Linked DNA regions of Homo sapiens: all the other regions are reported to be linked to region 2. Evidence: microRNA targets listed by miRTarBase, many of them from high-throughput screens and not tested one by one. Region 2 holds a microRNA gene; each other region holds the end of a gene's coding sequence.
The links. Region 2 holds the annotated microRNA hsa-miR-6876-5p (CAGGAAGGAGACAGGCAGUUCA, at 1,296-1,317, opposite strand). A microRNA usually pairs through its seed, bases 2 to 8, with sites in the 3' UTR of a target mRNA and lowers its output. Matches are read on the target gene's strand: a 7mer-m8 pairs with bases 2 to 8, a 7mer-A1 pairs with bases 2 to 7 and ends in A, and an 8mer does both.

Region 1 (4,000 bases), not on the chromosome of region 2:
AAGGAACAAAATAATGTTTTTATTAAAAATTGTACCCATAGCACCTCTCTGTCTTCCTACAAGTTGTTTCTTTTTTTCTTTTAATGAGATCTGTTTTTCTGCACAATTTCAGAAAAAGTTGTAGGGAACGTTTAGGGACCTGACGGCTCCCTAAACCAGAAGGTGACGCGGGAAGGAGACGTGTCCCAGCGGGCAGGCTCAGCTCATGAGTTTCCACGTTGTCCTCACCTTTCAGACTGGATCCATGCTACCAGGACGCTGACCCACGGGGAGCCACACTTAGGTACGCAGACGGGTTGCTCGTCAGGAGGATAGCTACACTGTGTGCCAAGAATGCGTAAGAAATAAAAACCATGCTACGAACCATTAGGCAAACATCATGCTTCAGCCCAGTCACAGTTAGATACAAACACGGCCTCCGAAGACCTGTACAGAGTGAGCCACCTCCCGGGGCTGTGGAGGCGCGTTCCGTGTGTGGCCATCTGGGTCCCCTCTCCCTGGGGCCCCTCGTTTTTTGGCTACAGCATTGAGTGAAGTGCGCCTTATAAAAGCAGGCTGGGAGAGAGGCTGAAGGCGAGGCTGGGGAGAGGGGCTTGGGCTGGACCGATTCACCCAGAAGGTGGCCGTGCAGGAGGCCGAGGGGGTGTGGCCTGGCAGCTCTCTCTGGGCTCACCTGCCTGGAATCTCTGCCCTGGCACCCCAGGAGGAGGGAGCTCTGCACACCCATCCCTGTGGCTCAGACGGAGCCTCCTGGCCACTCCGTGACCACATCCTTGCAGGGTGGGGCCGAAGCAATCTGAAATGAGCCACGTTGGGGGTGGGTGGGGAGACTCAGCCACTGCTGTCATGAGGCATCCGCAAGGCATGACTTTCAGCACGGCAGGAGAGAGCGGGAGCACATTCCATCTAGCCTGGCTTAGAGACATTTTGTTTGTCCTCTTTTTAAAACCGAGATTAAAATCCAACCTCCATCTTCCTAGGCTGTGATTTTCTTTTCCTTCCCTGAAGATAAGGAGTTAGGAACTGTTGCTTCTCAAATGCCGCATTGCTCTGGGAGGCCAAAATCTACCTGGAAACATCCAGCTCTGTTCCTTTGCACAGGTGGTTCTCATGGGACAGAGTCCCTCCGAGGCATGGGCGCTGTCCTAAGCACAGTCCAGCAGCAGCCAGGAGGCCGGCGTAGCCTCGGACAGGCCGCTCCGTACAGATCAAGGTTTACTAAGAGTGGAGGGGAGACGGAAAACATGAGCTTGAAACAGAAGTGTCATGATGTTGTATCGAAAACCCGAGAGCAACAAACATATCTCGAATCTGCTCATCCTCAACCTAAGACGTCTCAACACTCTCCCTGGCATGTAAAGCCACATCCTCATGGCTGCAGAGAGCAGTCATCAGAGTGCACAGAAAGCAGCGCTGGCCATGGTCTCCATTTATCGCTTCTCTTCCAAGAAATTCCAGTGCTCACATCCTGGCTTCCCGCCCACTTCGCCCTCTCCGGGGCCGAGGGGAAGGAGGTGGCACTGTCCACTGTGGTGAGTCTCATCCGGGGAACTGTGGGTTGCGATTCTCATGCAGAAGTGGCTTTGGGCAGAGCATCTAGGATTTTTGGTTTAGAATATTTCCCCCTCCACTCAGAAAAAGGAGGAGAAAAGGAAGAAGGAATAGGGGAGAGAGGAAGGGAGGGAGGGAAAGAAGGGAGGGAAGGAAGGAGGAAAGAGAGGAAGGAAGGGAGGGAAGGAGGGAGGGAGGGAGGAAAGAAGAGAGGAAGGGAGGAAGGAAGGAAAGGAGGGGTAAAGGAAAGGAAGGAGGGGAAGGAAGGGAGGAGAGAAAAAAGGAAACTTGCCATACCCTCTAATTTTGGAAAGACTGAAAAGGGGTTTTCCAGCCTATACAAAACTCTCCTTGGTCTCCTGGGGCCATACTCAGCAACGCTGACAGCACAGAATCCAGGCAATATCCACACCCTCTGCCCATGGAGGTGCACAAAACATCTAGGTAAGCAGGGGCCACACTTTCTGCATGTGGCCAGGAGACTGGCTCCTGGGTGGCACTGGTCAGATACTGCTCAGTTGTCCCCTACCCTCAGGTCACTGGGGGAACGGCACCTGCCCGTTTGCCGTGCACTGGGGGGCACTGACAGGGTGGTCTTGAGTCTTGTGTGTGTCACGCTGCTGCTGGTGAGGGGGCACTTACAGGGACCCGGGGCACACACGCCAGTGGGCACCAGCAGTGCTCCCGTTCCATCCAGACCCGGGACCCGGGCTGAGGGGTGGACCATGGCAGCCCAGTCGTCTGTTGCAAAGATGACGTGAGGGGCTGGAGGCATGGCCATCTCTGAGCTGTTAAGTTTTCCAAAGTAGTTCATACTCTTTTCATCTAGCTGAAAAATTTAAACCAAACAATGACAATTTTAAATAAAAAAAAGAAACATTTCCAAAAAACCTGTTAAGGCTAAAAGCTGGCCTCGGACTGGGAGAGGGGGCAGCAGCAGCGCCAGTGGTGGAGAAGCGGTGGCTGCTGCGAGCAGCCAGCAGAAGCCAGGACAGAGGGAGGGGACGGCCTGGTGTGCACGAGGCGAGTCGGGAGCGTGTGTTCTCAGAGCTGTTTTGCTTTATTTGCAGACACTGTTGCTTTTCATCTTTCCCATGTACAAAGCTGAACAATTAATAAAAAGGCACCTGGAGACAGCAAAGACGCATTCATTTCATGTGACATAGTTTAAAAAAAGATAAAAAGATTTTAAAAATACTCTGGTTAACAATGCACGCTTCCTACGTAACAAGCAATTCTGGAGACGCCGTCCCGTGTCCTCGTGTCCCGCGGAGTTGACCGTGTGCTGTGTTCGGGGAAGGAGAGGGCCAGCGTGGTGGCTTCCAGCCCTAAGAGGCTTCCCTCTCCCTCGCTGTCAGGTGAGAAGGAAGGGGGAAAGACAGGCAGAAAAGCCTGAGGACCGCACCACTGCAGTGACACAGACAGTGACGGCTGAGCCACACCTTAGCATCCCTGCCTGGCCGTCAGGAACCTGAAAGCCGACTCCTTGACTAGACACTGCCAAGTGAGAACATTTCAGAAACAGATGAAGTTGGGACAAAACGCACTGAGCCCAGGGAAAAACGTTTGCTCTTCAAACCCCAGGAGCCGCCGAGGATGTCCTGCGTTGAGAAGGGTGTGAGCCGCTGGTTCTCTGGAAGAGGAGGTAGAAAGAGACGGGGGCCGGCCGGGGCAGCTCTGAGATCTCACCTGACCCTCCACTCCCTCTCCCCGCTTGACCCTTCCTAGTTGGTCTTGAAGACGGAGAAACCCAGGGCTGGGGAGGTCTGAGGTCCTCCCAGGCCCCGGAGGTGCCAAGCCATTGCACCAGTGAAATACACCTTCTCTTAAAAAGAAAAGAAAAAGAAACAAACCTGCTTCCTGCAGCGAAGTTACAAAAAGCCGTTTAAAAAAACCTTCCTAATTGAAATCTAGTGTCCACAAGTAGGTAAAATCATCACTTATCAGATTTTTTTCTTTTTAAACAAAAACTTCAGCTCAGTTATTGGAGTTGATTGTCTTAACAAAAATAGACTCCGGAAAGTTGCCTCCGTTCCGCCCTGAGGGAGGCGCGGCGCTTTGCTCACACGAAGGAGGAGAAGCCGGTGAGCGGAGTTCGCGCGCCGGGGCCAGCGGGGGTGTAGACGCCGCCCGCGCTCTGCGTGGTGATGACCGGGTGCAGCTGCGCGCCCGCCTCGGAGCCCGCCACCGCCTCGTACCTGTGCGGCGCAGGTGCGCGGCCCTGGGCCCTGCGCTTCCATGAGTTGTAGTAGGTGGGGTCGCTCATGTAGTGGTTCACGAAGGAGTGCTTGGGCAGCGCGTCCTCGTAGTCAGAGTCCGTGGCCTGCGGGGAGCGGGAGAGAAGGTGTGAGTGCAGGGCAGGGCGCAGGGCCCGGAGCGTGCTGGGCAGGAGGCCTGGCGGTGGGGGCACCTCCCCAGGGGCGTGTGTCGCGGTCTCCAGCCCTCTCCC
Region 2 (4,150 bases):
GCCTCCCGAGTAGCTGGGACTATAGGCGCGTGCCACCACGCCCAGCTAATTTTGGTATTTTTAGTAGAGACAGGGTTTCACTGTGTTAGCCAGGATGGTCTCGATCTCCTGACCTCGTGATCCATCCACCTCGGCCTCCCAAAGTGCTGGGGTTACAGGCGTGAGCCACCACGCCCGGCCTTAGCCCTGTGTTTTCAAGAGGGATGGGGGCCAGGTCACAGAGAAAACGCAAGATGAGAAAACATAATTTCCATTAGGTTCCAGAGAAAGTATCAGTGTCCAAGAGGATATGGAAATGAGAACTTCTCAGCAGCTCAGAAATATCAGGTTGTTAGGCATCAGAGGATAAGAAGGAAGAGGTGTCTGCATAAAAACAGAAAGGCCTTTGATTCTTTATTTTTTATTATTATTATTATTTTTTAGAGAGACAAAGTCTTACTAAGTTGCCCAGGCTGGTCAGTCTTGAACTCCTGGACTCAAGTGATCCTCCTGACTTGGCCTCCCAAAGTGCTGGGATTACAGGCCTGAGCCACCATGCCCAGTCAGGTCTTTGATTCTTAAGAATAGTCACAGGGGCTGGGCGCGATGGCTCATGCCTGTAATCCCACCACTTTGGGAGGCCGAGATGGGTGGATCACGAGGTCAGGAGATCGAGACTATCCTGGCTAACACAGTGAAACCCCGTCTCTACTAAAAATACAAAAAAATTAGCCGGGCGTGGTGGCGGGCGCCTGTAGTCCCAGCTACTCGGGAGGCTGGGACAGGAGAATGGCGTGAACCCGGGAGGCGGAGCTTGCAGTGAGCCGAGATCGCGCCACTGCACTCCAGCCTGGGCGACAGAGCGAGACTCCCTCTCAAAAAAAAAAAGTCACAGGGATCTCAATAGTGCGCACACTGGGCAAGCCAGGAAAATCAGCCTGCAGAAGGCCCCAGCAGTAATCTGACTTTGCACTGGAGGCTCTGGCCTCCCTAATTATCTCTAAAATGGGCACAGCCTGCCCTAATACCGGAGCTGGAAACTACCTGAGAATAGGAAGGCCACGGAGTCACTCCTGTCTGGTGCAAAGGGGACAGTGTGAACTCTGTGCAGCATCAGTGATGACTCAACTCACCACATCCTTCCTGTCCAGCACCTCCAGGATGTTGCTCAGAAGCTGCGAGCTTGCCTCGTGGTCAGGCTTGTTGGAGTTGTCATCTAACTGGCCGCTGAGCTGGTCTGTCAGCAGTGGCAGCAGCACTTCTCTGCACTCTGAGAAGGAAAACACAGACAGCTCACACACAGCAGTGCCACCTCCTGAACTGCCTGTCTCCTTCCTGCAACTCTTCCTCGACCAGTACCAGTAGCTCTAAGCTCTGCAATCAGCCCTGCAGGGATGCAGCCCCTCCAGGCCACCCAGGAACACCTGGTTTTAGGCACGGAACTTTACCCTTGTTCAATGCGCAGATGAATGAATTAAAAAAAAAAAAAATGACCCTTCTCACAGGTGAAGGTGGGAACTTAGCAAAATGTTTAAATTATTTAACAATTTCTCTAGCTTTTCAAAACGCCAACCTAATGCACGAAATTGAGGGTCATATGAAACAAATAAAACCAAGCAAGTTATACATTTTTTTTTTCAAAAATTTTTTCACCTAATGGAGAAAATTTACTGAAAGAAGTTCCTATAAATAAAGTTCCTATAAATACTGAGCTTCCCTAGTACATGTCAATGACATTCTGCTCATGTCTGTGCAGGCGTGTGGATTTCAGAAAGTAAGGTATGACCTATTATGTCTTCTGAGATCTTTGCTATTGTAACACATTTTATAATGAGTTCAGGTACTCTGAATGCTACAGAAATGACTGTTAACCGTGATCACACTCTAAGTAGAACTATCCAGTGCATGCTTGCTCTTCTGCTCAAACACCTTATCTTTACTATCTCAATTACCTTTTCTGTATCCTTAAAAAGTGATCAAAGCATATTAAAATGTTTAGTAATAATTTGCTTTAGTAATAAATGTTTTCTACTTATGAGCATTCACTAACCTTTTGCAGGCATTACCTCTACCTCCAATTGTGTCTTAGGAACATTTGCAATTTCAAAGTGCAAATTCATAGGGTCAGAAAATATCAGAGCCCAAGGAGGCTACTGATACGATCTAGCTCAAGTCCTTCCTTCCACAGAACTGGAGGCTGAGACTTAGAGAAGGCCACTCATTTGTCCAGTTACATAACTAGCCAGGGGCAAAGCCAGGAAGGCTCTCCCACCAACAATCCACTCAACTTGTTTAACGTTGAGGAGTCCTGCTGGTCTTCAGATCTCCAGGCAATATACATACATAAAATGAGGTTACACTCTGGGAGCCCCTGACCAGGTAGTTAGCCCCAGAAGAAGTCTCCGTGGCTGCCTCACTCTAGCAAGTCTTGAGTTTATTGGGAAGGCCCAGGTGCTGGACCTCCTGTTTATATCAGCTTTGGGACAGAAACACTTGGTGGCTATTTGCTAGACTCTACTTACAAAATGAAAAGTATTTTATCAGTGTAAGAGTTTTTCCCCTCCATGCCCCACTCCTCTCCCAGCAGAATACTAGTAATCTGGCTTCTGCCAGCCTACCCCCTAAAGAAAACAGCTTGGCCAGGTGCAGTGGCTCATGCCTATAATCCCAGCACTCTGGGAGGCCAAGGTGGGTGGATCACCTGAGGTCAGGAGCTTGAGACAAGCTGGCCAACATGGTGAAACCCTGGCTTTACTAAGATTACAAAAAAAATTAGCTGGGCATGGTGGTGCACACCTGTAATCCCAGCTACTTGGGAGGCTGAGGCAGGAGAATTGCTTGAACCTGGGAGGTGGAGGTTGCAGTGAGCCAAGTTCATGCTGCTGCATTCCAGCCTGGGCGAAAGAGTGAGACTCCATCTCAAAACAAAACAAAACAAAAAAACGCTTGCTTTATCATGTTTGCCAGTTACCCTGGTGTAAAGACTTCCACCATGGTCAATTTCCAGCTACTAATGTGATATCACTGAACGTGGGGTTGAGAAGGGATGCATGTAACCAGCTCTCCTGTGGGATCCAACACATTGCTGTTTCCCTGTCCCCTGGTTTTTAAGGTCATGCAATAAGTATAGACTAAAGAAGAATAATTTCTTTTAAAAGGGTCATCTTTTCCTACTTGCTTGTTACTTCCTGAGGTTCCTGTTTTAAAGACAAAATTCTCTAATTAATGAACCACTTGCAGATTGTTCTAATTAAAGATTAAGGAACACATGATTTTGCTCTTTTAGGAACTGTTGGAAATACCGAGCTGACTTTAGATTCTCCTTAAAACCGCTCTCCCAGGAGGTCCTTACATACAACTGGCAACAATATTAATGTTGCCAACAAACAACTGGCAAGAATATTAATGACATTTTTAAAAAAGAAAAGTCAAGTGCTGACTGGGCACGGTAATTATGCCTGTAATCCCAGTACTTTGGGAGGCCAAGTTGGGCAGATCACTTGAGGTCAGGAGTTTGAGGCCAGCCTGGCCAACATTGTGAAACCCCCCCTCTCCCAAAAATACAAAAAAAAAAAAAAATTAGCTGGGTGTGGTGATGTACACCTGTAATCCCAGCTACTCAGGGGGCTGAGGCAGGAGAATCACTTGAACCTGGGAAGCAGAGGTTAGAGGGAGCAGAGACAGTGCCACAGAACTCCAGCCTAGGTGAGGGAGTGAGATTCCGTCTTAAAAAACAAACAAGCCGGACGCGGTGGCTCACGCCTGTAATCCCAACACTTTGGGAGGCCGAGGCGGGTGGATCACGAGGTCAGGAGATCAAGACCATCCTGGCTAACGTGGTGAAACCCCGTCTTTACTAAAAATAAAAATAAAAAAAAATTAGCTGGGCTTGGTGGCAGGTCCTTGTAGTCCCAGCTACTTGGGAGGCTGAGGCAGGAGAATTGCTTGAACCTGGGAGGCCGAGGTTGCAGTGAGCCGAGATTGCGCCACTGCACTCCAGCCTGGGTGACAGAATGAGACTCCGTCTCAAAAAAAAAAAAAAAAAAAAAAAAACAAGAAAAAACAAACAAACAACAAAACCCAAGTGTTAGCTGCAGAAATGGGGCTGTCATCTCAGCATGCAGCAGCTTGTTTTAGCTTTTTGAGATGGAGTCTTGTTCTGTCACCCAGG
Region 3 (4,000 bases), not on the chromosome of region 2:
ATTATTGGCATAAGCAAGTCTGATGTTTTCCTCTGAGACTAATAAAACTACTGAGGTTTCCTGTAATTCTCTTTGATATGTTACAGGTGATTGATGTAAAGCGAAGTTATGTAACTATGACTGCAACAAAGATTGAAATCACTATGAGAAAAGCTGAACCGATGCAGTGGGCAAGCCTTGAACTGCCTGCAGCTAAAAAGCAGGAAAAACAAAAAGATGCCACAACAGATTGAGTGGGAGATGGAAGGAAGGCTATTACATTATTTCCGAATTTTTAATACTGTGTGAAGTGGTGGCTTGCTGCTGTAATCTTTTGTTTTGTTGTTGTGTTACTGAATGTGGCATTTCAGGGTTAACATTAGGTTCTTAAAAGCCAAAGTCAGTTTGTCTTTTTGTGCCTCTCATCTTTCTTTTGTGTTATGTAAGATTGATTATTCATTTCTCCCTACTGGTAGGAACCATAGTTGTGTCCTATACTTGAAGAGGCTGGAAAGTAGCCCATAACCATAATTGCAGTATTTCTTTGTATTTCTCTGTTAAGCAAAGAAATATTAAGGAACATTTTTTTTATGTTTTTGTATTATTCCATAATTAGTAAAGCAAGATGAAATGTCAAATTTTAATCAGTTTTTTCATGGATTTGTGTTCTTACAGTACTTGAAAATATTTAAGGAAGAGATGAAGCTCTGCAGTTTTTTCTATGTGGGATGATTACTTTTTTAAGGAGGATTAATTCTGAGGTAGTATAGTAACTAAAGGGGAATATATGAATTGTTTAACAAATTAGAATTTGTTTACAACTACTTGAATTTTTAAATTATGTCAAAACTTACATTACTTGCCAAGCAGTATGATGTTATAGGAAACATAAATAAGATTACAGAGGTATCAATTTGGTTAAAATTCACCATTTTATAAGACTAAGCAATAATCTTAACAACCTCTTTCCTGAATATTTAAATGTGTTTGTATGGTGTTATGACTAATTGTTACTGATTTAGAGACTAAGCCCTCTTAAAACCTTTAGTTAAATATAAAAAGAAATTATATATATCTTGCCTCCCTGATGGAAAACTATATAAAATTGTAGACTTAAAAGGTTTGTGGAAATACATTAGGATATCAGAAAACTAAATATATGGAGTTGCTTTATGACTATTACATGTTAAATAAAAATAGCTTAATTGTTTTGGAGTTTTTTTTTAAAGTCATGAAGAGCTTCACAATTCTAGTGATACAATGTTGACTATATATTGTACTTTATATTAAATATAGGTAATACAGAATTAGATCGTTTGGATAGGTTTTGAGTTAGTGCAGAACTCAAGAAGAAAAATTAGGAAATATTCTGAAGGCCAGAACTCTGGAAGAACTTAGAAAGTTTGGGAATAAATTAAACTTATGTAGATTTAAAATTAAAAGGGGTTTATTTCCCAAACCCCTTGAGTCTTTTCTTTTCCTTGGTATTTATGGAATTCTTACAAAGAAAAATTTGCAGAAGTACTATTTTCGTGAATAAAACATATGTATCATTCTACTACCATTAGCAAATAACTTAGTTGTAGTTAATATAATTGTTAAAAGGTTTAGCTCTGTTACAAATAAAAACATAAAGATCTGGCAACCAGACTTTCATGATGTTACATTACCATGACAAGAAACTCTGGGCAGTAAAAGTTGGACCCACATGGAGTACATAAGCATCTGATACCTGGAGATGTATTTAAAATTTTTCAAGTTATCTTCCATGATTTAGGAACCATTTAGAGACATGAAGTCTTTATGGGTTGGGGGAAAGGTTGATAATTAGTTTGATTAAAGGTAATGATTAATATCCCTTTTTGTTCATACTTCCTTCTGAGGCTGTTTTCCCCTAAACAGTATCTTAATCTGTTACATGTAATTGAAATATTATTTGAAGCAGTGAGTTATTGTAACCTCAGATTAGTTACATTGATCAAAACATTGATTTATACACACACACACACACATACATATGTAGCTTTTATATTTAGTCTGGTTACATTAGTGACCATGGTATTTACTTTCTTCTTAAGGAGCCTTTGAATTTCTTGTCCAGATAAAAATCCGAATATTTCTCTTAGACTCATACATAAAGGGACACAGTTATCGTTAGGTAGCATATGTTTTACTATCGGTTTGTCAAAAAAGTTAATAAAAAGTGCTTATTGATTTATTTCTCTAGAAATTTGCTTTGTCTTTTTTAGCATTAAAAATAATTACTATAGCAAAGCAGTCAAAGTTAGGTATATTATATATATACTTGGTAACTAAAGATGGGAAACCTAAAATGCTATTTTTCTTTCATAGCACATTTACTAGTATAAAGGAAGTAAGATCCTAATAAACTGAGCCTTTATTTAACTTCTTTGACCTAGTTTTAGGTTTACAGAAAAGTTGTAAAAATACAACAGTTCTTTATGTCTTATATTAATCTTAATGTTAAAATCTTACGTTATCATAGAACATTTATAAAACTTAAGAAATTAACCTTTGTATAATACTATTAACTAAAGTAGAACATTTTATTTTTACCATCTGTTTTTAGTGGAATTCTTCAAGGTCTTAAGACTTGTCCTACTTTTTTGGTAATAATTTAAGCCAGTAATTTATAAACAATTAAGATATGATTAGGAATCAACAAATGTTTATAGGTTGAAGATGTAACTTCTTGGTGTAACTATACTGGCAAAGGACTGTAATGATTTTACTTTATTCTAATTTATATTTTATGCAAGGATTTAATTAAGAATTTTCTTCAGAAAATTATTCAACCATCAAAGTGTAGAGAAACTTAAAGAGTTCTTGCAAATATTTTAAAGGGACTTTGAGTTATTTCCCCTCTCCGAACTCCCAATTTTTTTTTTTTTTTTAATCAGTTATTCCTCAGCCTGAAAATTTATGTCATGCGTATACTCACAGTAAGTAAACTTTTTTTTTTTTATTTTTTTTATTTATTTATTTTTTTTTTTTTGAGACGGAGTCTCGCTCTGTCGCCCAGGCTGGAGTGCAGTGGCGGGATCTCGGCTCACTGCAAGCTCCGCCTCCCGGGTTCACGCCATTCTCCTGCCTCAGCTTCCCAAGTAGCTGGGACTACAGGCGCCCGCCACTACGCCCGGCTAATTTTTTGTATTTTTTTTTTTTAGTAGAGACGGGGTTTCACCGTTTTAGCCGGGATGGTCTCGATCTCCTGACCTCGTGATCCGCCCGCCTCGGCCTCCCAAAGTGCTGGGATTACAGGCGTGAGCCACCGCGCCCGGCCAAGTAAACTCTTAAAAGCTCATTTATGAGGGCTGGTGTCCCTTTTAGGATATATGGGTATGTACTCTGTAAATTTTGTTTTTAGCAGTCAGGTACTTTTAAATTATCTATTTGAACATTAACAGGGTTTTTTTTTGTTGTTCATCTTTTATGGCAAATTATTTTGACTTGGCATTCATATTTGTTATTTACTTTGTTTTCACCAGTATAATTCCATGGCCTCAGTTTTGAAATGCAAGCTATTAAGCCCAGCTTGTTTTTAGGTTTTGTTAATAGGGTTTTCTGTTTCATTTGTTTTGATTGTTTGATAGGTTTTTTGTTGTTGTTGTTAATTATCCCTGACTGCTTCCCTACTGCCCAGGTATCTTAACAACTTAATCTGGTGGTGTTGGATGGCTTGCCTTCTTCAGTTACGTATATGCCTATGGCTTTATACATATGGCACTATCTCTAAAATACCAGGCTTGCAGAGGTTTTCTTCTGCATGTTCTTTAACTTTTTAACAGAATTCTTCATTGTGAAGATTATCTTTAAGAACAGTTTTTCTGAAGACCATGTTTTCACTAAAAACTCAATGACTTTTCTTAGTTTTTCCGTTTAGTGGGTCACCTTTAATGTCCATTGAAAAGAAATATAACTTCCAGCCTTAAACATTTTTATGTTTCTTAAAGATTATGTGTCAAAATAATTCAATTTGCCATTCCTTTTTCATTAGGCA

Region 1: the mRNA of SDK1 is a reported target of hsa-miR-6876-5p. Seed matches in the 3' UTR shown: 7mer-m8 at 2,916-2,922, 7mer-m8 at 1,813-1,819, 7mer-m8 at 1,800-1,806, 7mer-m8 at 1,775-1,781, 7mer-m8 at 1,771-1,777, 7mer-m8 at 1,763-1,769 and 4 more.
Region 3: miRTarBase lists CHORDC1 as a target of hsa-miR-6876-5p. The part of its 3' UTR that is shown has no 7-base or 8-base seed match.

What each region holds. Positions count from the first base shown.
Region 1 is chr7:4,264,998-4,268,997 of GRCh38, reverse strand. It overlaps SDK1 (sidekick cell adhesion molecule 1), which reads right to left. Exons shown (of 45, transcript NM_152744.4): 45 at 1-3,874. The coding sequence ends at 3,614. Among named protein-coding and RNA genes, the nearest start is that of FOXK1, 420 kb to the left of the region's middle.
Region 2 is chr8:25,342,574-25,346,723 of GRCh38, reverse strand. MIR6876 (microRNA 6876) reads right to left here and starts at 1,322; the gene lies at 1,250-1,322. DOCK5 (dedicator of cytokinesis 5) reads right to left here. Exons shown (of 52, transcript NM_024940.8): 26 at 1,113-1,249. RefSeq lists enhancers at 1,037-1,331, 1,314-1,373.
Region 3 is chr11:90,198,638-90,202,637 of GRCh38, reverse strand. CHORDC1 (cysteine and histidine rich domain containing 1) reads left to right here. Exons shown (of 11, transcript NM_012124.3): 11 at 87-2,209. The coding sequence ends at 233. Among named protein-coding and RNA genes, the nearest start is that of CHORDC1, 22 kb to the left of the region's middle.